Linked DNA regions of Homo sapiens. The protein of the gene in region 4 purifies or fractionates together with the protein of the main gene of each other region. This does not show direct contact. Each region holds a gene or a part of one and is shown on either strand. Other genes may lie near its edges. The genes, in order: IQCB1, TNPO2, THADA and CA14.

Region 1 (6,831 bases), on a different chromosome or scaffold from region 4:
GTTGGCTTGAGTCCTCAGCTATCTAATGGGCTCAAGAAAAATTATTGTTCTAGATTATCTGGCATTTTCTTTGCTAAATTGGGAGCAACACTCTTACATAATTTTTCTACATTTCTTTTCCAATTATAAGTACAAATATAGGAATTTTGATTAGAATTTTACTAAAGTTAACATTAGAGATTGCGCAATATTATACAATTTGGTCTTTACATCCAGAAATACTGGTATTTTCACTCATTTTACAAAGAGCATCTTCCAGATTCTTTATGATATGGAGTCATGATTTGTTAATTGATTTTAACTTAAATTCCATATTGTTACAAACACAAATTGAAGTGGCTTCAATGTTATGGTATTAAAACATATTTAAAGTAAACAGGGAAACTGAAAAGTATTAGGTTGGAACCAAATAATCATAAAGGTACCTAGGATTGTAACAAAAATTAAACATTATATTTAGCTTTGAGATTCCTAGGAGAAAAGACAAAAAGGGAAACAGTACATTATGTAGTTCTCACAGTTTAATAGAAAGAATGCATTTTTTTGGTATGCAGTTCCTTTTAGAAATAACAAAATAGAAAATGAGTTCAACCATTGCTTTATAGAAAACAGGGAAATGTCCTTCAATTGAGCATTTCTTTTCCTCACATTAATAAAGTCTGCACACACCTCCTATGTTAACAGGAAATAGGAATTTCAGATAACAAATGTGAAAAGTTGAAATAATCCTGACAAATTTTTCAAATCAATTGTTGAAAATATTTATTTAGAAAAAAATATTTAGTTGGAAAACAGAAGAAACCAAAGAAAAACACACTTCATGTAAACAACAGAACACTATGCTAAGTTTAGTTCTACAATAAAAGCCACACAAATCTGTGTGTGGCTAACGATGAGGATACAGAGAAAAGAAAAAGAAAATTGAGAGAGAGGTAGAATATAACTCTTTGCTTACTGCAGGTCTTGTCTGGAGGAGAACCTCTGGAAAATAATAAGTTAGGATGGCCCTAGTCTACCAGCATGCCAGAGGCAGAACCAATATAATCTCCTAAAATATGAGATTTGTGTCAATTCTTAGGGTTACTCACTAAGGTGGTTTGGTTCCACCAATGAATAAATTTTCTAATTCTATACTAAGCTCATCCTTTGGAACATCAATCTCATCTCCAGATTCTTCTCCAAGCTTCTTCCACCAGGGTGCTTGTATGTGCTTCAGGGTTGTGAGATGGGCCTGCTTGGCCTTGGCTGCCACAGGCCTGGATCTACTTAGGAAGAGCTCAGGTTCTTTCCCTTCTGCCTCCTTCAGACTTGGTGCCTCTGTAGTGGACAGAAAATAAACAGATGAGCAGAAGAGTCCTATGCCAAGCAGGTAGGAACTTGGAAGCTACAGAGCTGTAACTCTGCAGGCAGAAACAGCATTCCAACTCTGAATGTACTACTTTTGAGAAAGGGTCTTGCTCTATTGCCTAAGCTGGAGTGCAGTAGCAAGATCACGGCTCACTGCAGCCTCAACCTCCTGGGCTCAAGTGATTCTCCCACCTCAGCTTCCTAAGTACCTGGGACTATGCCACCACACCCAGCTAATGTTTTTTCTTTTTTTGTAGAGATCTCACTATGCTGCCCAGGCTGGTCTCAAACTCCTGGACTCAAGCAATCCTTCTGCCTCAGCTTCCCTAAGTGTTGGGATTACAGCCATGTGTCAACATATTCAGCCCATTTCTGTTTTTTTTTGAGACAGAGTTTTGCTCTTGTTGCCCAGGCTGGAATGCCATGGCACGATCTCGGCTCACTGCAACCTCCGCCTCCTGGGTTCAAGCAATTCTCCTACCTCAGCCTCCTGAGTAGCTGGGATTACAGGCGTGCGCCACCATGCCCAGCTAATTTTGTATTTTTAGTAGAGACGGGCGTTTCACCATGTTGGTCAGGCTGGTCTCGAACTCCTGACCTCAGATGATCCACCTACCTCGGCCTCCCAAAATGTTGGGATTACAGGCGTGAGCCACCGTGCCCGGCCATTTCTGTGTTTAAAGGAATTTAAAAAGATGTAGATTTTTGTAAGATGGCTTATTTATTTATATTATTATTTTTTGAGACAAAGTCTCACTCTGTCACCTAGGCTGGAGTGCAGTAGCGCGATCTCTGCTTACTACAACCTCCGCCTCCCGGGTTCAAGCAATTCTCCTGCCTCAGCCTCCTGAGTAGCTGGGATTACAGGCACCCGCCACCATGCCCAGCTAATTTTTGTATTTTCAGTAGAGATGGGGTTTCACCATGTTGGTCATGCTGGTCTCGAACTCCTGACCTCGTGATCCGCCCACTTCGGCCTCCCAAAGTGCTGGGATTAGAGGCATGAGCCACCTCACCCAGCCAAGATGGTTTATTTAAAGAATAGAAACTTTAATAGAACCTCATCCTATAGATGAGAGGCTCAGTTTCAGCCATTTATCCAATTTAAGAATATAAAATTACCAAGTAGTGGCCATTAAATAGAAAACACTGGTCCTTTCTGTTTACATATACTAAAGAAATCCAAGATGCTGACTGAAACACAGGGGCTTCATGGATGGGATCTCTCATTAAATGGATCAGTGGTTATGATGAATTCATTTTTGTAAAGTGCTTCATTAAAAATTATAGGCTAGGCACGGTGGCTCACGCCTATAATCCCAGCACTTTGGGAGGCCGAGGTAGGCAGGTCACAAGGTCAAGAGATCGAGACCATCCTGGCCAACATGGTGAAACTCCGTCTCTACTAAAACTACAAAAATTAGCTGGGCGTGGTGGTGCGCACCTGTAGTCCCAGCTACTCGGGGAGGCTGAGGCAGGAGAATCGCTTGAACGTGGGAGGCGGAGGTTGCAGTGAGCCAAGATCACACCACTGCACTCCAGCCTGGCAACAGAGCAAGACTCCGTCTCAAAATAATAATAAAAAAAAATTTATAAAATGCTCTACAAGTGAATGGCACTGTAACTATTGTCATCATCTACTTACAAAATATGACCAAAAGCTTTTCAGATTACTTAGTAAAAGATGGCTAGTAGGGCTCAGCATCTGAAATTAATAACTTTGGGGTGACACATATGAATGATGGCAAGGCTTGGGGAAACAGGTAAGAAGGTGGTTATAAAATCCGCATCATTTGAAAACATTGTGTGCTGGTCTGATCTATGTAGAAATTTCCTGAGGTTAGGGGATGAGCTAAAGATGCTTAGTAATGGTTTCCTTCTAAAGGTTTTGGATGTCACAAACCTCGCATAGGTTGTTCCTTTTAGAGAACGAAAGTAAAATGAGCACATACTCATTAGCTGTTCAACGTTGGTGCTGATCTGTGCTATCAGAGCTTCTCTGTGCTGCTGGGCTCGCTCTTCTAGGGCCCTGCCCATAAAGTAGTGTTGCAGTCGTTCTTGAGCTTGGGCATGGAGCTCCCTACTGACCACATCTGACATTGGAGAGCCCTGGAAACACAGGACAGAAAAACCTGTCACAGAGAGGACATAGGTATCAAAGTACCCAACCACTTAGCAGAGGTTTTAGACTGCTTAGCTGTCTCTCATTTTATCAATTGAATCTTATGATTGATGTCTATCTTGTACTCTTATGCAAGTATTAATTAGTCTCTTAAAAGTTTTAGATAAAAATAATGGTGGAGAAGTTTTTTGTCTTTCTTTTTTGTATGTGCCTATACTTTACTTTCTCAGACACTGTGGAATTATGGGAGAAGAGATAAGCTTGAGAGATCACAGTGAAAAATTACAAATGGTTTCGTAAAGACACTGGCCTGGGGCCGGGTGTGGTGGCTCACGCCTGTAATCCCAGCACTCTGGGAGGCCAAGGTGGGTGGATCACCTGAGGTCAGGAGTTCAAGACCAGCCTGGCCAACACGGTGAAAACCCATCTCTACAAAAATTAGCCAGGCATGATGGTGGGTGCCTGTAATCCCAGCTACTCGGGAGGCTGAGGCGGGAGAATTACTTGAACCTGGGAGGCAGAGTTTGCAATGAGCCGAGATTGCGCCATTGCTCTCCAGCCTAGGCAACAGAGCAAGACTCTGCCTTAAAAAAAAAAAAAAAAAAAAAAAGACACTGGCCTATAACAGGTGTAACAACGCCAATCCCTTTGTTTCTTTGTTTTACTTCTTATCCCATTCTCACTCCCAAACTTATCCAAGCCATATGTTGTAACTGCTTCTGGATCCACAGAACAAGGGACAAAATCATCCAAAGGACCATGTTCTTTTGGCTAGTCAGCTAATTTAAGGGGAACTTAACTGATTAGTTTGGGCAAGGATGAAATAATCTTAACTTTGGAGGTGATAAAGAACCTGACACCACAGCTTTCTCAAATATTCCTGTTCCTATCCTGGATATGACCCTGTTCCACTAAAACCTTACTTCTCAGCCACAGGATCTTAAACAGCTGCACTAGAGTATGGCTAAAGAAGCACTTTAAAAAAAGAAAAACAGGAGCATGCATCAGAACTACATATAGTGTATTAGAAAAAGAGAGATCAAAGACCTAAACATAAGAGCTAAAACTGTAAAACTCCTAGAAGAAAACACAGGAAAAGCATCATGACATTGGTTTTGGTGATGATTTCTTCATACGACACCAAAGCACAGGAAAAAAAAAACAACAACAAAAACCAGACAAAATGAACTTCATCAAAATTAAAAACCTTGGTGCACCAAAGATCACTATCAAGAAAGTTAACTGGCAGTCCACAGAATGGCATAAAATGTTTGCAAATCATACATCTAAGGGATTAATCTCCATAATATATAAAGAACTCCCAAAACTCTACAAAAAACAACCTGATTAAAAAATGAACAAAATATAACCCTGTGGAAAAAAAAATAAACAAATGACTTGAACAGACATTTCTGCAAAAAAGATAAAGAAACGGCCAATAAACACATGAAAAGATGCTCAAAATCACTAATTAGGAAAGTGCAAGTTCAAACCATAAGATACAACTTCATATCTATTAGCTGCTATCAAAAACAATGACTACAACAAAAATAACTAATGTTGACAAGGATGTACAGAAACTGGAACCCTGTGTGTGACTGGTAGAAATGTAAAATGGTACAGCCACTATGGAAAACAGTATGGCAGTTCCTCAAAAAAATTTTTAAAAAGAATTAGCACACAATCTAGCATTTCCATTTCGGATACTCACCCAAAAGAATTGAAAGCAAGTACACACACAGATATTTGTACACACATGGTCACAGTAGCATTATTCACAATAGCCAAAGGGTGGACGGAACCCAAGTGTTCCTTGGATAAACAAAATGTAGTATATATAATGGAATATTATTCAGCCTTTAAAAGTAGAAAATTCCGACATATGCTAAAACATGAACCTTGAAGACATTATACTAACTGAAACAATGAAGTATGATTCTACTCATGAGGTACTTAGAGTAGGCAAATTCATGGAGACAGAAAGTAGAATGGTGGTTGCCAGAAGCTGGGTAGTGAGGGAATGGTGAGTTAGTGTTTAAAGGATGCAGAGTTTCCATTCTGCAAGATGAAAAAAGTTCTGAAGATGGGATGGTGGTGAAGCTTGCACAAACAATATGAATGTACTTAATGCTACCAAACTACATTTAAACATAGTTAAAATGGTAATTTTTATATTTTATCTATTTTACCACCCTGAAAATAAATAAATTTTAAAAATACAGATACATGAGGCCACACAAAACTTACTGTATCAGAATTTCTTGGGGTGTGTGGGGCTTGGGTATGTAATTTTTATAAAGGTGATTAAATTTGTAAATGATTAAAACTGTTAAAAGCAATATAGTCCTCTCTACAGAGCTTAGGAACTGATTATCTGTTTGTTGGAGAGGAGGCATGCTTCTGTCTGTCTTCATTCTACCTCTGCTCACAGGAAAAATCTTTCAGTTGTGGTTCTGCCCCTCTCTCCAACTCGGTTCTGGTGTTTGGCTAAGGGAGGAGTTGCTAATATGATTGATCAGCACTTAAGAGATTCACTGGCCATATACACCATGGAATACTATGCAGCCATAAAAAAGGATGAGTTTATGTCCTTTGCAGAGACATGGATGAAGCTGGAAACCATCATTCTCAGCAAACTAATACAAGAACAGAAAACCAAACACTGCATGTTCTCAACCATAAGTGGAAGTTGAACAATGAGAACACGTGGACGCAGGGAGGGGAACATCACACACTGGGGCCTATCGTGGGGTAGGGAACTAAGGGAGGGATAGCATTAGGAGAAAAACCTAATGTAGATGACAGGTTGATGGGTCCCAAACCACCCATGGCACATGTATACCTATGTAACAAACCTGCATGTTCTGCACATGTATCCCAGAACTTAAAGTATAATAATAATTAAAAAGAAGAGATTCATTGGCCATGTTTTATTGGTGGCCAGGCTGATTATTTTTAAAATCTCAGGACCCCTAAATTTTTTTTTAAGCATTTAGGTTAAAACAACCTTTTAAAAAATATAGCTTTATTGACGTAAAAATAACATACACTAAACAACAAATATTGAAAGGGTACAATTTGCTAAGCTTTGACATACACATACCTAGTTCATCACTACGTTTCCTTGTTTCCTTTTGTAAACCCTTATCCTCATCCTACCCATCCACCAACTACTTATCCCAAGCAACTACTTATCTATTTAATGTTACTATAGATTGGTTTATATTTTTAGAATTTACATAAAGGGAATCATAAAGAATGTATTCTACTCTGTCTGGCTTCTTTCATTTAGCATAATTATTTTGAGATTCATCCACGTTTTTTTTTCTTTTTCTTTAAAAATTTTTTTTGAAGACAGGGTC
Region 2 (7,000 bases), on a different chromosome or scaffold from region 4:
CTGCTCAAAGACTCACAGTCGCCCAACACAGCCACTCAGCGCATCGTGCAGGATGTATCCTTCCTTCCTTCCGGGGCTGGGGGAGCCGGGTAGATGCGTGCAGTTTCCAAAGGCCAGAGAGAGAAAGAGAGGGACTGACTCCCCTAGTCCCCAGATTTTTTCTGCTGTGCGGAGGATCTGCCCTGGACAGAGAAGGATTACAATTCCTGGGTCCCATTTCCAGAGCTGCGGGGATTGTTATAGAAAATGATGAAAATTCCTAATGTTCATCGAACGCTAGCATCTACTCCATTAACTATTAAAGTAGGCCCTGGCCCAACGGGGTGGCTCATGCCTGTAATCGGAGCACTTTGGTAGGCCGAAGCAGGTAGATCGCTTGGGCCCAGGAGTTTGAGACCAGCCTGGGCAACATAGGGAGACCCCATCTCTACAAAAAATACAAAAAATAGCTAGGTGTGGTGGCATGCACATGTAGTCCCAGCTACTTGGGAGGATGAGGTGGGAGGATGGCTAGAGCCCAGGAGGTAGAGGTTGTGGTGAGCTGAGATTGTGCCACTGTACTCCAGCCACCCTGGGCGACAGAGCCAGACCCTGTCTCAAAGAAAAGATATATAGGCCAGGCGCGGTGGTTCACGCCTGCAATCCCAGCACTTTGGGAGGCCGAGGCGGACGGATCACCTGAGGTCAGGAGTTTTGAGACCAGCCTGGCCAACATGGAGAAACCCTGTCTCTACTAAAAATACAAAAATTAAGCCAGGTGTGGTGGCAGAAGCCTGTAATCTCAGCTAATTGGGAGGCTGAGGCAGGAGAATCGCTTGAACCTGGGAGGCGGAGGTTGCAGTGAGCGGAGATCGTGCCACTGCACTCCAGCCTAAGTGACAGAGTGAGACTCTGTCTGAAAATAAATAAATAAATATTTAAACCATGAGCATGACTCACCCCAAAATTTGGATTCCCTCTTTTAAAAAAAAAAAAAAAGTCTTCATGGCCTGTTAGTGGGGATCGCTGACTAGTAGCTGCCACTTTAAGAGGAGTGGGATTCTCCTTCCCTCTCCTGCTCTGGCTGGGTCTTCAGGAGTGGATGGGAAACTCAGACATTTCCACCCAACTCCTTGTATGATTTTTTTTTTTTTCAAGATGGAGTCTTGCTCTGTCGCCCAGACTGGAATGCAGAGGCGCAATCTCGGCTCACTGCAACCTTCACCTGCTGGGTTCAAGCGATTCCCCTGCGTCAGCCTCCCAAGTAGTTGGGAATAGAGGCACGCACACATCATGCCCGGATAATTTTTTTGTATGTTTAGTAGAGATGGGGTTTCACCACGCTGGCCAGGCTAGTCTCGAACTCCTGACCTTGTGATCCACCCGCCTTGACCTCCCAAAAAGTGCTGGGATTACAGGCGTGAGCCACCGCGCCCGGCCCCTTATATGAATTTGACGTGTCTGAGGTGCTCTGTGTCATTGTGGGCTTATTAGGGAGCGGGATCCCCCAGGAGCTGGCAGCCTGGTCCCAGTGGTCAGAGATAGTGTCAGGTACATAATGAGGGGACCTGGCTGGGGGAAGGCCTCTGTCTTCCAAGTCCCTTAACAGCCTGGCAGAAACTCAAACAACTCAATCAGTTTCCTGACTTCAACAACTACCTGATTTTCGTCCTGACCAGACTCAAGTCAGAAGGTACGCCCTCTGCTCCCTTCCATGCGATCGGGACCCTGCTTTCTCCCCCTGGGCCCCTGAACCTCAGCCTTCCTCCTCCCAGATGAGCCAACGCGCTCTCTCAGTGGCCTCATCCTCAAGAACAACGTGAAGGCACACTATCAGAGCTTCCCACCCCCTGTGGCAGACTTCATCAAACAGGAGTGTCTCAACAACATTGGCGATGCCTCCTCGCTCATCCGAGCCACCATTGGTGAGAGGGGCAGCGGGGGTTGGCCTCTGAGGACACACTGAACTCTCACTTCTCAGCATGTTAAGTGTAGTGCTTCATGGAATGCTCTGGCACCCTCTATGGTAGTACTATTACTATTGCCATTTGATAGATGAGGAAGCTGAGGCGCTGAGCTATTAAGGGACCTGTCTGGGTAAGCAGCAGAAGTCAGAAACAGCTGAGGCAGTGCAGGGCCACGCTCTGGAACCACTCCCTCCTGAAACAGTCCTTCTTGGCTCTGAGACAGTCATGCAACATCTAGAATTTTGTGTTCGGCCTTGGGCTGAGTGCTAAGGGTATAGCAGTTAAAATAATGCAGGTATTCATGTTTCAGGTGCAACGGAATTAGGTTTTCAGCAGAGCCTTTTCTGACTCTTGGAAGGTGGCCTGAGGAAGTTACAGAAAGATGACTAAGAATAGGCTCACGCCTGTAATCCCAGCAACTTTGGGAGGTCAGGGTAGGCAAATCACCAGAGGTTGAGTTCAATACCAGCCTGGCCAACATGGTGAAACCCCGTCTCTACTTAAAATACAAAAAACTTAGCTGGCCAGGCATGGTGGCTCACACCTGTAATCCCAGCATTTTGGGAGGCTGAGGTGGGCGGATCACAAGGTCAGGAAATCAAGACCATCCTGGCCAATGTGGTGAAACCCCATCTCTACTAAAAATAGAAAAAATTAGCTGGGCGTGGTGGCACTCGCCTGTGGTCCCAGCTACTCGGGAGGCTGAGGCAGGAGAATCACTTGAACCCAGGAGTTGGAGGTTACAGTGAGGCGAGATGGCGCCACTGCACTCCAGCCTGGCAATACAACGAGACTCCATCTCAAAAAAAAAAAAATTAGCTGGGCGTGGTGGTGAACATCTATAATCCCAGCTACTCAGGAGGCTGAGGCAGGAGAATTGCTTGAACCCAGGAGGCAGAGGTTGCAGTGAGCCGAGATTGCGGCACTACACTCCAGCCTGGGCAACAGAGCAAGACTCCATCTCAAAAAAAACTAAATAAAATAAAAACAAAAAAAATGACTTCTGGCTGGGTGTGGTAACTCACGCCTATAGTCCTAGCACTTTGGGAGGCCAAGGCAGGCGGATCACTTGAGATCAGGAGTTGGAGACTAGCCTGGCCTACATGGTGAAATTCCGTTTCTACTGAAAATACAAAAAATTACTTGGGAATTACAGCTGGTGGGCACCTGTAATCCCAGCTACTCGAGAGGCTGAGGCAGGAGAATTGCTTGAGCCCGGGAGGCAGAGGTTGCAGTAAGCCAAGATAATGCCACTGTACTCTATCCTGGGCAACAGACTGAGATTCCATCTCAAAAATAAAAAGTAACTTTTAGTCCTGCAAAAACCCCCTCCCAGGCCAGTAGTAGGATGTGGACTTCCTGAGCTCATTCTATGTGCCAGGCTCTTTGCTAAGTCATTGAAACTTACTGATCCAGGCTGAGCACAGTGGCTCACGCCTCTAATCCCAGCACCTTGGGAGGCTGAGGCAGGTGGATCACCTGAGGTCAGGAGTTCGAGACCAGCCTGGCCAACATGGTGAAACTCTATCTCTACTAAAAATACAAAAATTTGCTGAGTGTGGCAGCGGGCACCTGTAATCCCAGCTGCTTCAGAGGCTGAGGCAGGGGAATTACCTGAACTCGGGAGGTGGAGGTTGCAGTGAGCCAAGATTGTGCCACTGCACTCCAGCCTGGACTACAGAGTGAGACTCCATCTCAAAAAAAAAAAAAAAAAAAAAGAGAGAAAAAGAAACCTACTGATAACCTTAGTTAGGAGGCTGGTTTTCTTTATCTCTTCTGAGGGCTGGAAGCACTGAGGCACACAGAATGAGGGGGTGTGGCTAAAGTTCCACAATCCTCACTGTGTACCTACCCATTGCAGGGAGCACCTTTCTCTCGTTGAGTTTCCACCCTTGGGAAACACTGCCATCTCATGGCAGCAAATACCATCTCTGCACTTAACAGAACCCATATCCAGCTCTGTCACCAGATATGTGCACTGTCCTGGCACCTCAGATGCCTGCTGTATGTAACTCCTGGATATCTAATAGGCAGTACAAGCATCCCTGCCACCTTCCTGCCCTTACCTCCTTTCCCTCTCTCATCATGCCTGTCCTTACGCCAGGCCTTTGCACCATAGAGTCCCCTGCCTCAGATGCCCTTTCCCCAGAAACCTGGATGATTCCTCCCTCGCCTCCTTCACCTCCTTCAGGCCTTGGCTCAGATATCAAGATGTCACCTCAACGAGGCCTGCTCTGGCCACCCAATTTAAAGTTGCTACCTTCACCTACAGCCCTTTCTCACCATCTTTTCTGCTGTATTTCCCCCCTTAGTCCTTGGCATGTGGCCCCTCCCAGTTGTTTGTTTTTGTTTTGTTTGTTTTTGAAATGGAGTCTTGCTCCATCCCAGGCTGGAGTGCTGTGGCGCGATCTCTGCTCACTGCAACCTCTGCCTCCCAGGTTCAAGTGATTCTCCTGCCTCGGCCTCCCAAGTAGCTGGGATTACTGGTGCCCCCCACCACACCCAGCTAATTTTTGTATTTTTAGTAGAGATGGGGTTTCACCATGTTGGCCAGGCTGGTTTCGAACTCCTGACCTCAAGTGATCCACCCACCTCGGTCCCCCAAAGTGCTGGGATTACAGGCATGAGCCACCCATGCACGGCCCCTCCCAGTTTTTTTTGCTAATTTATCTTTACTTCATAGCTTGCTTCCAGCTCCCAAGGGTGAGGATTTTGTGTTTTGCTCTGTGCTGTGCCTCAGGGCCTGGAACAGAGTTGACTCACAGTAAGGCTCAGGGTGCCTACTGAGTCAAGGAGTACCCTTCTACCTATGTCAAGGCCAGGAGCGGTGGCTCACGCCTGTAATCTCAGTGCTTTTGGAGGCCAAGGCAGGAGGATTGCTTGAGGCCAGGAGTTTTAGGCCAGCCTGGGCAACATAGTGAGATCCCATCTCTACAAACAATTTTAAAAATTAGTTGGGCGTGGTGGCATGTGCCTGCAGTCCCAGCTACTTAGGAGGCTGAGGCAGGAAGATGGCTTGAGGCCAGGAGTTTGAGGCTGCTGTGGACTATTGATTGTGCCACAGCAGTCCAGCCTGGGCAACAGAGCTAATTCTATCTCTTACAAAGAAAAAAAAAAGGAGGGGGGATGTAGAGGGCGTACATGGGCTAGGGAACAGAAAGGCAGCACTGGGGGTGTCCAGTGGGAGGGGGAGGTGCTAGGCAGCCCCTGCCCAGCCTCAGGCAGCGTCCTTTCCCGGCCGCCCCAGGCATTCTCATCACCACCATCGCTTCCAAGGGTGAGCTGCAGATGTGGCCCGAGCTGCTGCCCCAGCTCTGCAACCTGCTTAACTCGGAGGATTACAACACTTGTGAGGTAGGCAAGAAGCCATGGATGGCCAGAGCGAGTACTGGGGGGCTGGGACCACCACCCACCACCCACGTTTGTCTCTCTGCCCCTCTGCACTCAGGGAGCCTTTGGAGCCCTGCAGAAGATCTGTGAAGACTCATCAGAGCTTCTGGACAGTGACGCCCTCAACAGGCCCCTCAACATCATGATCCCCAAGTTCCTGCAGTTCTTCAAGCACTGCAGTCCCAAGATCCGGTGGGTGCAGCTCCCTGGGGGCTTCCAGGGAGCCTGGAGTGGGCAGGGTCAGGGTGACCCACGTGTCTGCTCCCCGCCAGGTCCCACGCCATCGCCTGCGTGAACCAGTTCATCATGGACCGGGCCCAGGCGCTGATGGACAATATTGACACCTTCATCGAGGTGGGCCGCTGGGCTGGGGGTGGGCAGGGCGAGGACTGAGGGCCCCTACAACTGACCCTGTTCCTCCCTGCAGCACCTATTTGCCCTGGCTGTGGATGATGACCCCGAGGTGCGGAAGAATGTGTGCCGTGCCCTGGTGATGCTTCTGGAAGTGCGGATTGACAGGCTCATCCCCCACATGCACAGCATCATCCAGGTGTGCATGGTCAAGGCCAGCCCAGGCGGGCAGGCAGGGGGCCGGTGGCAGGGGTCAGGGAGCCACCCCCAGCCAGGCCAGGCCTCAGCTTCTCCCCCCTACCACAGTACATGCTGCAGAGGACCCAGGACCATGATGAGAACGTTGCCCTTGAGGCCTGTGAGTTCTGGCTGACGCTGGCCGAGCAGCCCATCTGCAAGGAAGTCCTGGCCTCCCATCTGGTCCAGTGAGTGCTGCTGCTGCCCACTGTCCTACCCCAGCTTCGACCCCTTGCTATGCCTCTGCCTTCCCTTCTGGTCACCTGCTGTGCTTCTCTCAGTCCACATCCTTGTCAGTTTACATTCAGTATATATTTATGTGTAAGTGGTAAGAATGCCACTTTTTGAAGACTTCAAAATTAGGTAACTGATAGGTGGAAAGAAATGAAAAATCAATGGCCACATGTGGTGGCTGACACCTGTAATCCTAGCACTTTGGGAGGCCGAGGCGGGCAGATCACAAGGTCAGAAGATCGAGACCAGCCTGGCTAACACGGTGAAACCCCATTTCTACTAAAAATATAAAAAAATAGCTGGGCGTGGTGGCAGGCGCCTGTAGTCCCAGCTGCTTGGGAGGGTGAGGCAGGAGAATTGCTTGAACCCAGGAGGCTGAGGTTGTAGTGAGCCAAGGTCGTGCCACTGCACTCCAGCCTGGGTGACAGAGCAAAACTCCGTCTCAAAAAAAAAAAAAAAAGAAATGAAAAATCAACAAAGGCTTCAGGGGTATGGCTGTATCCAGGAGCTCAAAGGATGTGAAAGGCATCTTTGTGGTCTCAGATCTGCTTCCCTTGTGTTGGCTTCATTCTTAGGCACAACCTTCCCTCTGGGTAGTGCTGTAGCCTTCTGTGCCCTTCCAGCTTAGGAACTTCAGAGTAAAGAAATTTTCGACCAGTGTTTCCAACAAAAGTCCTAAAACTGACCCTCCTTGACAAACTTGGATTGCTTGCCTCTCTCCAAATCATTTTTTTCTTTTTTATTTTGAGACAAGGTTTTGCTCTGTCATCCACGCTGGAGTGGAGTGTCAAAATCATGGCTCACTGCAGCCTTGACCTCCCAGCTGAAGCAATCCTCCTACC
Region 3 (7,031 bases), on a different chromosome or scaffold from region 4:
TGTGTGTTGACTGCATTAGGTCAGGTGTGGAATTTTCCACTTATGGCACCATTTCAACACGTAAAAAGTTTCCGATCTTAGAGCATTTTGGATTTCAGATTTTCAGATTAGAGATGCTCAACCTGTATATGCTTAGGAAATACTTAAAGAGTTAATACTCAAGTCACAGGCAGTGTAGGTCAAGAAGTCCCAAAGGAATGTCTACCTTCATTACACTCATCAGCATGCTTGCTCCCCATCTCCTCCTTCTTTGGGGTAGTGCCTTCATTCCCTGGCTTCCTGGTGATATCATCCCTTCTTAAGGCCCCAGACCAGAAAAATGGGTCTGGGTGTCCAACTCTCAAGTCCAGCAGACTATACTTACACTCAGCCTGGACTATATCCAGAACAGCCCAGATAGTTCTTCCTGTTGTTAATTACAATTTTTTTTTTTTAATTTTTTTTTTATTGATAATTCTTGGGTGTTTCTCACAGAGGGGGATTTGGCAGGGTCATGGGACAACAGTGGAGGGAAGGTCAGCAGATAAACAAGTGAACAAAGGTCTCTGGTTTTCCTAGGCAGAGGACCCTGCGGCCTTCCGCAGTGTTTGTGTCCCTGATTACTTGAGATTAGGGAGTGGTGATGACTCTTAACGAGCATGCTGCCTTCAAGCATCTGTTTAACAAAGCACATCTTGCACCGCCCTTAATCCATTTAACCCTGAGTGGACACAGCACATGTTTCAGAGAGCACAGGGTTGGGGGTAAGGTCACAGATCAACAGGATCCCAAGGCAGAGGAATTTTTCTTAGTGCAGAACAAAATGAAAAGTCTCCCATGTCTACTTCTTTCTACACAGACACGGCAACCATCCGATTTCTCAATCTTTTCCCCACCTTTCCCGCCTTTCTATTCCACAAAGCCGCCATTGTCATCCTGGCCCGTTCTCAATGAGCTGTTGGGCACACCTCCCAGACGGGGTGGTGGCCGGGCAGAGGGGCTCCTCACTTCCCAGTAGGGGCGGCCGGGGCGGCTGGCCGGGCCGGGGGGCTGACCCCCCCCACACTCCCTCCCGGACGGGGCGGCTGGCCGGGCGGGGGGCTGACCCCCCCACCTCCCTCCCGGATGGCGGCTGGCCGGGCAGAGGGGCTCCTCACTTCCCAGTAGGGGCGGCCGGGCAGAGGCGCCCCTCACCTCCCGGACGGGGCGGCTGGCCGGGCGGGGGGGCTGATCCCCCCCCACCTCCCTCCCGGACGGGGCGGCTGGCCGGGCGGGGGGCCGACCCCCCCACCTCCCTCCCGGACGGGGCGGCTGGCCGGGCGGGGGGCCGACCCCCCCACCTCCCTCCCGGACGGGGTGGCTGGCCGGGCTGAGGGGCTCCTCACTTCCCAGTAGGGGTGGCTGGGCAGAGGCGCCCCTCACCTCCCGGACGGGGGGGCTGGCCGGGCGGGGGGCTGACCCCCCCACCTCCCTCCCGGACGGCACGGCTGGCCAGGCGGGGGGCTGACCCCCCCACCTCCCTCCCGGACGGCACGGCTGGCCGGGCGGGGGGGCTGACCGCCCACCTCCCTCCCGGATGGGGCGGCTGGCCGGGCGGGGGGCTGACCCCCCCCCACCTCCCTCCCGGACGGGGTGGCTGCCGGGCGGAGACGCTCCTCACTTCCCAGATGGGGTGGCTGCCGGGCAGAGAGGCTCCTCACTTCTCAGACGGGGCAGCTGCCGGGCGGAGGGGCTCCTCACTTCTCAGACGGGGTGGTTGCCAGGCAGAGGGTCTCCTCACTTCTCAGACGGGGTGGCCGGGCAGAGACGCTCCTCACCTCCCAGACGGGGTCTCGGCCGGGCAGAGGCGCTCCTCACATCCCAGATGGGGCGGCGGGGCAGAGGCGCTCCCCACATCTCAGACGATGGGCGGCCGGGCAGAGACGCTCCTCACTTCCTAGATGTGATGGCGGCTGGGAAGAGGCGCTCCTCACTTCCTAGATGGGATGGCGGCCGGGCGGAGACGCTCCTCACTTTCCAGACTGGGCAGCCAGGCAGAGGGGCTCCTCACATCCCAGACGATGGGCGGCCAGGCAGAGACACTCCTCACTTCCCAGACGGGGTGGCGGCCGGGCAGAGGCTGCAATCTCGGCACTTTGGGAGGCCAAGGCAGGCGGCTGCTCCTTGCCCTCGGGCCCCGCGGGGCCCGTCCGCTCCTCCAGCCGCTGCCTCCCGGGCGGCCGTTAATTACAATTTTAAGAGCAGATTTCTGAGCCATATTTCTGACTGTGCCAAATAAATGAAATTCCTTTTGAATGTAATGCTGTCCTCTAGCAGCAGTGGGTAGGAAGGATAGGGAAATGGTACCTGGAGATGATAGTACTGTGCTCTTATTATTATTAGATTGTTATGAGATTCGGTTTTTAGACATTGAAACAGAGATGACACAGAGGTTGAAGATCCCAGCTGCCCAGGGTTTCCCCCACTGCTTTATAAAGATACTGCCTGGCTGGGCTCAGTGGCTCCCACCTGTAATCCCAGCACTTTGGGAGGCCGAGGCGGGCAGATCACCTGAGGTCAGGAGTTTGAGACCAGCCTGGGCAACATGGTGAAACCCTGTCTCTACTAAAAATACAAAAATTAGCTGGGTGTGGTGGCGTGTGCCTGTATTTCCAGCTACTCTGGAGGCTGAGACAGGAGAATTACTTGTACCGGGGAGGCGAAGGTTGCAGTGAGCCAATATTGTGCCACTGCACTCCAGCCTGGGTGACCGAGGGAGATTCTGTCTCCAAAAAAATAAAAAAATAAAAAGATGCCTCCTGGTGAGCTGGGAATTCTGCAGTGTCTGAGTTAAGAGTAGCGGTATGGCCGGGCACGGTGGCTCACGCTGTAATCCCAGCACTTTGGGAGGCTGAGGCGAGCAGATCACGAGGTCAGGAGTTCGAAACCAGCCTGTCCAGCATGGCAAAACCCTGTCTCTACTAAATATACAAAAATTAGCCAGGCGTGGTGGCATGCTCCTGTAATCCCAGCTACTCAGGAGGCTGAGGCAGGAGAATCACTTGAACCCTGGAGGTGGAGGTTGCAGTGAGCCGAGATCGCACCACTGCACTCCTGCCTGGGCGACAGAGCGAGACTCCATCTCAAAAAAAAAAAAAAAAAAACAGTAGAGGTTTGTCTGCAGCCCCAGATGGTGGCCTCCCTGGGGTCCCATCATGTTGGAGCCCAAGTCCAGTCCCCATTTTGCCCCCTGTGACAGACTTTGAAACAATTTGATGTGTTACATAAATACTCTATATTTTTAAATCTCGAATTATTGCAAGTCTATGCAAATTTTCAATTTCAAATAAATTTTTCTGTTACCTGAATGTTTTACATATGCATTATGTTTATGTTAGTTTTCTAGAAGTCAGCAGAGTTCTCTGAGTTATAATGAGATGATAAATATAAACGGTGTTTTATTAGCTATAAATGCGTATCACTTAAATGCTGTCTGGTAAGCCAATCCAGGATAAACTTGTTAACATCTTGGGTACAGTTGTCAGGATTTATCAGAGAATGCTATGAATATAATATCTAAATTTTGGCAAGGCATTTGGTGAAGTCTGTCATAAGTTCTTGTAGATAAAACTTCATGGACAGAATGATACAATTAAGAGGATTCATAAGTGGGGGATGACTCAAACCGAAGAGGGCTAGTTAATGAATTAGTGAGAGCCTGGAAGAGCGTTTGAGGCAAGGGCCAGCAGGGAGCCTGCTCACCAAAGGCCTCCACCCTCCAGCTTGCCCACATTTTTAGTAATTATTTGATTTTGGGCATTTAGGCATTCCTGTGAAATTGAAGTTTGCCAACTACTTTGTATGCGTTTTTGAGATAGGGTCTCACTTTGTCGCCCAGGCTGGAATGCAGTGTCAGCATCCTGGCTCACTGCATCCTCAACCTCCTGGGCTCAAGTGATCCCCCACCCAGCTGACTTTTTATTTTTTGTAGAAATAGATTTTCACAGTGTTGTCCAGGCTGGTCTCAAACTCCTGGGCTCAAGCAGTCCTCCCACCTTGGGCTCCCAAAATGTTGGGATTACAGGCATGAGCCACCACGCCCAGCTGGTTTACCCAATTTCTATTAGATGATGAACATGTGTGAAGAACTGGGTGCTGGGAGGTACCCGAGACTCCTACCCTAGTCCGCACCCTCATTCCCTAGTCCTGCCAGTTTTATCCCTTCAGTGTTTTTTTTTCTTTCTTTTTTGCCTTTTTAAATGATCACCTTGGCTTCAGACCTTCAGCGTTTCTTAAACCCACCTTCTCCTGATTCCTTCTGAACTTAAGGCCCTCGTCATTTATTTCTCTCCTGGACTACGGTGCAGTAGTGTTGTAACTGGTCTCCCTGCCTCTAATATTGCCTCCTCAACGATAAGAGCACTTCAGTGAAAATGGGCCCCTGACCTTACTGCTTAAAATAACCCCCCAGTGGCATTCCGTTGCATACAGAACTAGCTGCTTCACATTGTCTAGGAGGCTTTCTGTACTCTAGCCACATTTCTTCCCTAGCCTCATCTCCTGCCCTTTCCCACCTCAAATTTTATGCTCCAGTGTTATGGGATGGCCTGTAGTTCCCCACATGGTCCGTTCTGTTTCATGCCTTTGTTGAGCCTTTGCTCAGCTGGTTCCCCTGCCTTTGGTGGTGCTAACACATTGTCACCTGTCTTCCTCTTTGAGGCCTAGGTTATCATTTGTACCACTATATTGGAATTATGTGTTCATGCATTTCTCTTTCTCAAACTAGACTGACTATAAACTCCTTAAGGGCAGTGATCTTATTTAGCTCCTAGCACATAGTAAGCAGGCAATAAGTTTTTGGTTTTTTTATTTTTTTAATCAGAACTGAGAATATGAAAAGATCTCGGCAAATGAAAGGTAGACCATAAAACTTAACAGGAGGATAAAATTTAACAGGGATATACTTGGGCTTAAAATAAACAAAGAAAACACATCTTGGCTTAAGTACTGAGTACAAAGTGGGAGAAAGATGACTCACCACCATCAGTAGACCACGTCAAAAAAGAAGGGCTGTGGTTTCAGTTGACTTTGTGCTCCATATGAGTCAACAGTGTGATGCAACTCCAGTTCAGAACAGAGAAAGTAATAGTCCTGCGGGTCAAACCATGCAGGAGATTTGTGATCCAGCCTATTGGCCATCCTTTAAGAGAGGGTGAGGCATGTCCACAGGAAAGCAGCTAGAATAATGAGAGACAGTGACCCCATCATTTGAGGAAGGAAGTAGGAATGTTTCATCTGGAGAAGACAGAGGGGACACAAGAATTGTAATCAAATGTCTAAAGAGCTGTCATTGGGAGCCTCAAAATGTAGCATTAGGCCAGTGAGTAGAAACACAAAAAGAACTTTTTGACAATTAGATCTACTAACAATGGAATAAGCTGTCTCATGAGCTCCAGGGTACTGTAGGGTTCAACCAAGAGCTTCTGGGAAAGGGTGTTACAGAGGGGAGCTTCACCCCTGAAGGAAGTTTATACTAGATGTCCTCTTCTCATGGTCAGCTTTGAGGCTCGGTGATAAGAGGTCACTGAGTTCGTATTTATTGAATGTTGAGGAGGGGTGCCAGGAACGCATTTTCTAATAGTAATGCCTTTGTGCCCCTGTTGGAAAAATTATACATTACCTAAATGGAAATTGTTGTGGACTAGAAGTCTGAACCTTAGAGGGCCACTCACTTATGACAGTGTTTGAAATCTGCTTATGGGAGACATCTGATGGCCTCACGCAGTGGATTCAGTCTTCATTCTTTCATGTCCTTTTGTGGAAATTTAAAGTGATTATCTCTTTCCCTTTTGCTTTTTTTGCTTCTTAGTTCTGGAGAGTCTTGGCTTCTGGGAGGAAGTCAGAGGGATTATCTCAGGATCAGAGCTGATAACGGGATTCCCTTGGGCCTTCAAGGTGCCAGGCCTGCCCCAGTACCTCCAGAGCCTCACCAGACTAGCCATTGCTGCAGTGTGGGCCGCGGCAGCCAAGAGTGGAGAGCGGGAGACGAATGTCCCCATCTCTTTCTCTCAGCTGTTAGAATCTGCCTTCCCTGAAGTGCGCTCACTAACACTGGAAGCCCTCTTGGAAAAGTTCTTAGCAGCAGCCTCTGGACTTGGAGAGAAGGGCGTGCCACCCTTGCTGTGCAACATGGGAGAGAAGTTCTTATTGTTGGCCATGAAGGAAAATCACCCAGAATGCTTCTGCAAGGTAAAGTCTCCAACGTACTGACTGGCCCTTTACACTCCCCACATTCTTTTGTGAGCCACTGGAATGGTAGGATCATGAAGGCAAGATTGGGTTTAGGCTCTCCAGGGGCAATAGGAAGTAGATTCGGCAGCCAGTGGATAAGGACTCTCTTTTTATGGTGGTTGGCATGGCGTCATACCTGGTAGGGCACCAAGAAAAGCTTTTGATGATAGGAGTATTGATGGCAGAGATTAACCAAAGACAGAGCAAACCACTTTGGGATGTTTAGGAAACAGATCATTAAAAATTCACTGTAGAGTGTGTCAGAGGTAGTCTTTGCTGACATGGCTATTTCAGGGCAGTTGGCCACCTGGGAAGCATAATCAAAAGGAAAGGGCACTGGCCTAAAATCAGGGCATCTGGCTCCCATCCCAAGTCACTAGAGGCCCTCTGGTTAGTCATTGCATCACTCTGCCTCAGTCTCCCAAAGGTATTATGGGGGAAATAAGAAGTCAGTGGGAGCCTTTTGAAAGGTAGACCTCTTGTTGATACAATTGATTATCATGTAACATCTAGAGACATCTCCCTGAGTATTTATTTCTCTTTTTTGTGTGCGGATTTGGCTTACACAGATACTGAAAATTCTCCACTGCATGGACCCTGGTGAGTGGCTTCCCCAGACGGAGCACTGTGTCCATCTGACCCCAAAGGAGTTCTTGATCTGGACGATGGATATTGCTTCCAATGAAAGGTTTGCCCCCAAAACCTCCTGTGCAACCTTGGTAAGATGTATGGTCCCATCAGTCATTATGTAATGAACTTGCACACAATCCTGCCCTCAGGTC
Region 4 (7,685 bases):
GGTGAAACCTTGTCTCTACAAAAAAATTAAAAAATTAGCTGGGAGTGGTGGCATGAACCTGTAGTCTCAGGTGCTTGGGAGCTGAGGTGGGAGGATCGCTTGAGCCCAGGAAGGGAAGGCTGCAGTGAGCCAAGATCACGCCACTGCACTCCAACCTGGACAACAGAGCCATGCCGTCTCAAAAGAAAAGAAAGTAAAAGAAAAACAGCCCGGCAGTTTTTTTACAAAGTTAAACATACGCTTCCCGTACAATCCAGCACTCAGTATCTATTTATTCCCACTCCTAGGTATTTACTCAAGAACAATAAAAACATATGTCTGCTCAAAGACCTGTACTCAAATACTTATAGTGCTTTTATTCATGGTGACTAGAAAGAAGTGGCTGCGGTGGCTCATGCTTATAATCTCAGCACTTTGGGAGGCCAAGCTGGGCAAATCACTCGAGCCCAGGAGTTCGAGACCAGCCTGGGAAACATGACAAAATTTTGTCTCTACAAAAACTAAGAAAATTTTTAAAACCTGCCAGTCATGGTGGCATGCGCATGTAGACCTAGCTACTCAGGAGGCTGAGAAGAGGATCATTTGAGTTTGAGGCTGAAGTGAGCTATGATTCTGCCACTGCACTCCAGCCTAGGGGACAGAGTGAGACCCTGCTTCCAAAAAAAAAGAGAGAGGCTGGGCGTGGTGGCTCACACCTGTAATCCCAGCACTTTGGGAGGCTGAGGCAGGCAGATCACCTGAGGTAGGGAGTTCAAGACTAGCCTGATCAACATGGAGAAACCCCGTCTCTACTAAAAATACCAAATTAGCCGGGCGTGGTGGCAAATGCCTGTAATCCCAGCTACTTGGGAGGCTGAGGCACGAGAATCACTTGAACCTGGGAGGCAGAGTTTACGGTGAGCCAAGATCATGCCATTGCACTGCAGCTTGGGCAACAGAGTGAGACTCTGTTTTTTTTTTTTTTTTGAGATGGAGTCTCGCTCTGTTGCCCGGGCTAGAGTGCAATGGCGCTATCTCGGCTCACTGCAAACTCCTCCTCCTGGGTTCAAGCGGTTCTCCTGCCTCAGCCTCCCGAGTAGCTGGGACTACAGGCGTGAGCCACCGCGCCCAGCTGAGACTGTACAAAAAAAAGAAGAGAGAGAGAGAGAGAGAAAGAGAAATGCTAATTTCTCTAATGCCAAATCTCTAATGTAGATTTGGACACACCCAGAACTATAGAATCGGGTACTATGGGGGTGAGGTCCAGAAATCTCTATTTATTTATTCTATTTTATCTTTGAGATAGAGTTTTGCTCTTGTCACCCAGGCTGGAGTGCGGTGGTGCAGTCTCGGCTCACCGCAACCTCTGCCTCCCAAGTTCAAGCGATTCTCCTGCCTTAGCCTCCCAAGTAGCTGGGATTACAGGCACCCGCTACCACACCTGGCTAATTTTTTTGTATTTTTGGTGGAGATGGGGTTTCGCCATATTAGCCAGGCTGGTCTCAAATTCCTGACCTCAGGTGATCTGCCCGCCTCGGCCTCTCAAAGTGCTGGGATTACAGACATGAGCCACTGCACCTGGCCAGAAATCTGTATTTTAATAAGCTTTCCAAGTTTAAAAAGCTTTCCAGGTGATTCTGATGCACATTGACATTTGAGAACCAATGGTGTAGGAGAAAGCTCACTGGTGCCTGTGTCCTTGTTCTGGTTTAGCCTAGCAGCTATATGACTAACCATGGCTAAATCCCTAAATCTCTCAAAACTCAGTTTTACAGGGTATAACAAGGGGTTTAGAATGATGCCTGAGGGCCCTTCTGCTCTAAAATTCTGTGAAAGACAGTAAATAAATGTTGCAATTACTAGATTCATTCAATCAACAGTTATGTACCAGGCAGCGTTCTGTTCATGGAATCAATGTATAACACAAAATTGCAACTGAAATAGTGTAACTTATCGCTTATAATTAAATGACTTGCAAATTTTCAGACCACAAACTTTTACCGGTCCTCAATTTACAAGATTCTCATACTACATTTGTTGTGTAATGTGAACTGGAAAACTAAGAAAATGATCCAAAGGGTCATTTTTTCCAAAATTACTTAATTCTTTTTTGTTTGTTTGTTTTTTCTTTTTTGTTTTTGTGACAGAGTCTCACTCTGTCACCCAGGCTGGAGTGCAGTGGAGCAATCTCAACTCACTGCAACCTCCCACTCCCGAGTTCAAGCAATTCTCCTGCCTCAGCCTCCTGCGTAGCTGGGATTACAGGCATGCACCACCACGCCTGGCTAATTTTTGTATTTTTAGTAGAGACGAGGTTTTGCTATGCTTTGGCCAGGCTGGTCTGGAACTCCTGGCCCACCTGCCTCGGCCTCCCAAAGTGCTGGCATTACAGGCGTGAGCCACCACGCCTCATCTCAGTCAAGTTTCAGTATATCTACAAGGACAGGAGATGGCGCCAGAAGGCAGTGAGATGCTTGGTTTTGGTTTTAACGGTTTTAGCCAATGCAAGCAAGGAAAGGGCTTGAGAGAGAGGTCAGAACTAAAACAAAGGTGCCAGAGTTTGAGTGGAAACTAAGACTGAGTGGGGAGAGGGAGCTGTGTCAGTTTTTTTTTTTTTAACTTACATATAAGGGTCCCCTTGACACCTACTCCAAATCAGCACAGCTAGAAAGCAACAAAAGAAATATCCACAGTAAAGCCAAAGATCAAGATAAAGTCAAGTGCCTGGAGGACGGCGCTCGCCTTCTGGCTCCCTCTGTCCTAGAAAGGAGGGCCTTTGTCGTCTGGGAAGCATAAGCACCTGGATGCGTTGCTCACCCAAGATCAGGGAAGTGTTGATTCCAGGCTAAGATATCTTTGTGAAACAATGTTCAGTTGCGTAGGCAAAATCCCAAAGCCCAGCAGCAGTGAAATACCTCCCAGAAGGAACCACATACACAAAGCATTTTAAATTAAAATTTAAAAATTCATAGACGAGCCAGGAGGTGGCGCCTGGCAAGACACGCTATCTGCCTTGGAAATCGGAATCTCAGCTCAGCGCTCCAGGGGAACTCTGTTCCGGCAGAGGTCATTCTGTTCAGACCTCTTCTTTCCTACTAAATCTCTTCTTTCATACCAAGATGTCTCTGCTTTCTTTTTTTGTTTCTTTGTGTTAAGTACCCTGATTCCCGGGAAATCTAATTTATACTTCAAGTCTTTTACTCTTCTTAGATGGGATGGATGGGGCTTTGGGGAACCTCAAAACATAAAACTTTCCTGAAGGGGACAAATAACTCAGAGGGTGATAGGAGAAGAAAAAGGGAAATGACATCAGCAAAATGGCTTGGCTTTGCAGATCAATCACAGGGGATAGAAAGGCACAGTGAGCTCCTGTCTCTGCAGGAGCTGATGATCCAGCACATGCATTATTCTGTTCATTTGGCTTTTATCCTGCTCCCTTATTTAGCTTCTGCTCCCTTTGTTTGGCTATTTATTGCTACTCGGCAGGAGCAAGGAGGGCAGAGGGAGCTTCAGATGGGTGCATCCTCCTGGCTGGTGCCTCTGGTGAAGAGCATGGAGGAGAAAGAGGTTTCAATGTCTGGCTTGAAAGTATCTGTGGGTTTCACATTCTCTAACGAGGGATTTAGGATGTACATTCCAATCGGGATTTCCAGTCCCGTGGGGAGCAAACATCAGTTCACATTCCTGAGACGTGCAGCCTCCATGCTCCACGGACGCAGCTCCTTGGTGGCAGGTTTCATTCAGTGCCACATGTCCTGCCTCAGCCCTTTGTTGGGCTGGAAGGAAGACCCTGAGCCCCTCTTCCATCTGGATCACATGGTCTCTCCAGACCCTCCCCTCTCTTTCTCTGGAAACCACCTTTTTCTGATGGTGGTAGTGATTGTTCCTAAAGTCTCTCCTTTCCTCCTGCCCTGGCCTCTCTGCCGGAGGTCAGTGTCCTCTTCAGTGACAAAAGCCGCCCTAGATCTGGGCTCCCTGGAGAGGGAGGTGGCTGGGTCTGGCAGTTACAGCCGCTGTCTCTCCATGGTGCTGCTACACCCCTCCCCCACTGGGCATACAAATGGGCTTTATCCAGCAAACAACGCTCCCTCCCCGCACTCCCCCCACCCCAGGCCACACAGGCACGTGGACCCAGGCCTCACCGTGGGAAGGGGGTGGTGGCAGGCACAGAAGAGATTGCTCCAGATGAGTTCTCCTTGCCTCACTTCTCTTCCTTAGAACTTAGGACACAACTCAGGTTTTAGTTATTGACTTCCTCCACCCCTCCCCTGCACCCTGAGTCCCTAATTCCTTCTTGTTATATATCTCCTAATTCTGGACTCTTCCCATTCCAGGGCAGCTCAGATTATGCAGGGAATTGGGAACAGGTACCCCCACCATCTGCCGCATACCACCCAGGGAGCTGCTCCTCAGAGGAGAAATCAGGCGGGGGGATGAAAATACAGTGTCCTTTTGAGGGGGCTGAGTTGAACCCCAAAGCCCCTTCCTTGACCCTGCCTGCTCCAGGGAACACCCATCTAAACAGCATCTGTGTGACTAGCAGAGGAAGGAAGAGCTCACCCCAGCTGGGCTCCTGAGCCAGGGCCAGGGCTCCAGTGAAACTTGCCGCGCTCCAGCTCCGAGTGGGGCCATCCTGCATGCCTAATTGGCTATTTAAGGAGCTGTTCACCAGCAGCCCAGGCAGCACCCCCGTCCCCACATACACCAGTTCAGAGCCACCTTAAAAGCAGGAGGCAGTTGTAAAGTCGCTGGCCAGCTAGTGGAGTGGAGACTGCAGAGGGAGATAAAGAGAGAGGGCAAAGAGGCAGCAAGAGATTTGTCCTGGGGATCCAGAAACCCATGATACCCTACTGAACACCGAATCCCCTGGAAGCCCACAGAGACAGAGACAGCAAGAGAAGCAGAGATAAATACACTCACGCCAGGAGCTCGCTCGCTCTCTCTCTCTCTCTCTCACTCCTCCCTCCCTCTCTCTCTGCCTGTCCTAGTCCTCTAGTCCTCAAATTCCCAGTCCCCTGCACCCCTTCCTGGGACACTATGTTGTTCTCCGCCCTCCTGCTGGAGGTGATTTGGATCCTGGCTGCAGATGGGGGTAGGTACAACTAAATGTCTGTGTGTGGATTTGTGCTGATGTTCACATGTCGCCAGGTGTGCTTAATGGGGGGAGGAGAGGTGTGAAAGGAAGCCTAGAGGCTGGAATAATAGGCTCAGAGATGAGGAAAAAAGAGTGGGGTGTGGAGGAGACCACTTCCCTTCTTTACCTTTTGTCTCTCCAGCCTTGTTGTTATTGGAGGTCGGGGAGAACTAGCGGCAGGCAGGCAGAGTGTGTACACATGCAAGTGCTGGAATCTCTTTGCAGGCTACAGATTTTCTCCAGAGCTCTTTCCCCCACTGCCCTGGTCCCAGGCAGGACTCCTGGACTTCTTTATTTACAAACTCCTCCAAATAGGGAGTCAAAGAGGCCTGGAGTAAAAAGATGGATAGATGGGGGTAGGGGGAAGAATACTTCCTGCCCAACTCAGACCCTGATCTCCAATTCATCCCCTTTTGGCCAAGATTCCCTCTTCATTCTGTGGAGCGACTAACTCCCCAGTTATCCTCTGAAAGTGGCAGTAAGAGTCAACATTTGTTTGACATTTTACAGTTTACAAAGGACTTTCAGGAGCTCCCAGGAGATGAGGAGGGATTCTTGGGAGAACAGGCTGAAGCGCTCCAGGAGTGTCCCCAGGAACTCCTAGACCTCATTTTTGTGTTTCCTGTGCCTAGCACAGTGTCCAGCACATACTAGGTGTGTAACTGAGGTTTGTGGAAAGAGCAGGGTGAGGTGGGTGTCCAGAGAGCAGAAGGCAAATGCAGAGAGGATGGGGGCAGGCAGGCAGCCAAATGGAGAGTCACAAATCTCATCTGAGGAGAAAGAAAAAAAGAGGGAAAGAGGAGGAAGAGACAGAATAAGTGTGTTGAGGCTCTGACCAGAGTGGACAGGCACCTTTACAGACCAGGGAGTTTGAGTTGTTGGGGGGTCCCACAGATATGGTAAAATGAGAGGCTGCCTCCAGCTCTCCCTTGGGCTAGCAGAATAGGTCAAGGATAAGAGCAGGACATCTCACAAGTTTGAGGAATTTAAGGGAATAAGAGACAGAGAGAGGAAGGAATTTAGGATTTTTCTCCAGAGTTTCTAGTAGTATGAATATTGCAGCATAAACCATGAAGGCCTTCGTTTTCTTCTTGAGGCAGTTTGGCCGTAGGGAGGGGCTGGACCTGCAGACCCTCAGCCTTTGCGTCAGACAGGACTGCACGAGAGCCTGGCATGTGACCCAGCTGGCAGCTCTCTTCTCTACACACAATGCTTCACTTTCATCCTGTCCCTGCCAGCCTGGCTGCCTGTGCCCACCCACCACCCTCAATCTAGAGTAGACCCTGCCCTGACTCCCACCCTTCCCTAACCATCTCAGAATGTAGGGAGCAGAGCCTCCTGGTGATGAGGAGTTTCCTCTAGAGCTAATGGGACCAGAAAAGAAGAATTTACATATGAGTTTACAGCTCAGTGGCTTTATTCATGCAATTTTTTAAAGCAAAGGAATAATCTCCCCTTCTCCCCTCAGTAGCACCCCCCAACACACACACACTCTAAACTCCTTTCTCCTCCCCGCTTTCTAGTCCCTATCCTTCCAACCCTCTGCCCACACCCTCACCCCACCCACCCCAATCTTCTAAGTGTTAGATTGACTTGGCACAGGTTACAGAAAAGAAAGGGTTGGGCCAATCGCACATTTGGATCCAGGTTAATTTTAGTCTCTGGGCTTTACCTCTTTTCCTTCCTCCTCCCCTTTTACTCGGCAGGCACCAACACAGCCTGGCTGGTGATTTTAAATAGGCCCCCCGACCTTTCCACAGAGGTGTCCGGTTTCAGGGCTTCCTTTGCAAAGTGCTGGAGCAGAGGGAGGAGAGACTGCAGAGAGGGAGGTGGAGCAGTACAGAATGCCAGAGGGAGGGGAGTGTGGAGGCCAGGGTTCTGCCCCAGGCTGCGCTGGCTGTAACCCAAACTATTCTGCCTTGCAGGTCAACACTGGACGTATGAGGGTGAGCAGATCTCAAGGCCTCCCGACAACCCTTTCACACTGGGACCTCCTCACCTGGCAGGAAGACACACTGTGCGGGTGGGAGGAGACTTCCTTTACCTTCTCACCCTAGCTCCTCCCTTCTGGATCTCCTCCTGCCTTGAGTTTCACATATATGGCTCCTAGATCCTGCTCTAATCATCAAATCCTACACCTCCTGATTTGGCAGAAAAGCTAGTTAAGTCCTCAGTAAATCGTGTAGGAGTGAGGGAGCTGGGGTGGAAAGGAAGCTGGGTGGGAACTCTGAGCTTAGCTGCCAGGTCTCCTTCTGGCTCCGTCTATCCTAATCCATCCTACCCCTAACCTGCATCTGAAATTGGGACAGAGCTGGAGGTCAGGGGTGAGGAAGAGGCTGGCAGGATAGTTTCTGACCCTGGGGGAGGTGGAACTCAGTTCCTATGAACTACTGATTAATGACTTAACCAAACTCAAGTTCATGATAAACGGTCAGTGTGAGAGCAAGAAGTGAATGATGAGAAGTCAGGATATCTGAATCCCAAGGCCACTTGATAGGGGCCTCCAGGAGACCGTATCTCTCTAGGTTATTTTTTTTTTTTTTTTTTTTTTTGACACAGAGTCTTGCTCTGT

The links.
Region 1: the proteins of CA14 (region 4) and IQCB1 purify together in Homo sapiens (affinity purification with mass spectrometry; 3 studies listed by BioGRID and IntAct, with this or other methods). This does not show direct contact.
Region 2: the proteins of CA14 (region 4) and TNPO2 purify together in Homo sapiens (affinity purification with mass spectrometry; 3 studies listed by BioGRID and IntAct, with this or other methods). This does not show direct contact.
Region 3: the proteins of CA14 (region 4) and THADA purify together in Homo sapiens (affinity purification with mass spectrometry; 3 studies listed by BioGRID and IntAct, with this or other methods). This does not show direct contact.

The regions. Positions count from the first base shown.
Region 1 is NC_000003.12:121,769,258-121,776,088, forward strand, and holds the end of IQCB1 (IQ calmodulin-binding motif-containing protein 1), read right to left. Parts: intron 3,457-6,831; coding exon 3,300-3,456; intron 1,318-3,299; coding exon 1,088-1,317; 3' UTR 504-1,087; downstream 1-503. UniProt on the Homo sapiens protein: Involved in ciliogenesis. The function in an early step in cilia formation depends on its association with CEP290/NPHP6.
Region 2 is NC_000019.10:12,713,933-12,720,932, reverse strand, and holds part of TNPO2 (transportin-2), read left to right. Parts: coding exon 1-54; intron 55-1,596; coding exon 1,597-1,672; intron 1,673-1,754; coding exon 1,755-1,904; intron 1,905-5,193; coding exon 5,194-5,300; intron 5,301-5,394; coding exon 5,395-5,528; intron 5,529-5,608; coding exon 5,609-5,690; intron 5,691-5,763; coding exon 5,764-5,886; intron 5,887-5,993; coding exon 5,994-6,112; intron 6,113-7,000. UniProt on the Homo sapiens protein: Probably functions in nuclear protein import as nuclear transport receptor. Serves as receptor for nuclear localization signals (NLS) in cargo substrates.
Region 3 is NC_000002.12:43,292,010-43,299,040, reverse strand, and holds part of THADA (tRNA (32-2'-O)-methyltransferase regulator THADA), read left to right. Parts: intron 1-5,827; coding exon 5,828-6,207; intron 6,208-6,818; coding exon 6,819-6,937; intron 6,938-7,031. UniProt on the Homo sapiens protein: Together with methyltransferase FTSJ1, methylates the 2'-O-ribose of nucleotides at position 32 of the anticodon loop of substrate tRNAs.
Region 4 is NC_000001.11:150,253,113-150,260,797, forward strand, and holds the start of CA14 (carbonic anhydrase 14 precursor), read left to right. Parts: upstream 1-4,661; 5' UTR 4,662-5,016; coding exon 5,017-5,071; intron 5,072-7,038; coding exon 7,039-7,059; coding exon of another isoform or gene 7,060-7,136; intron 7,137-7,685. UniProt on the Homo sapiens protein: Reversible hydration of carbon dioxide.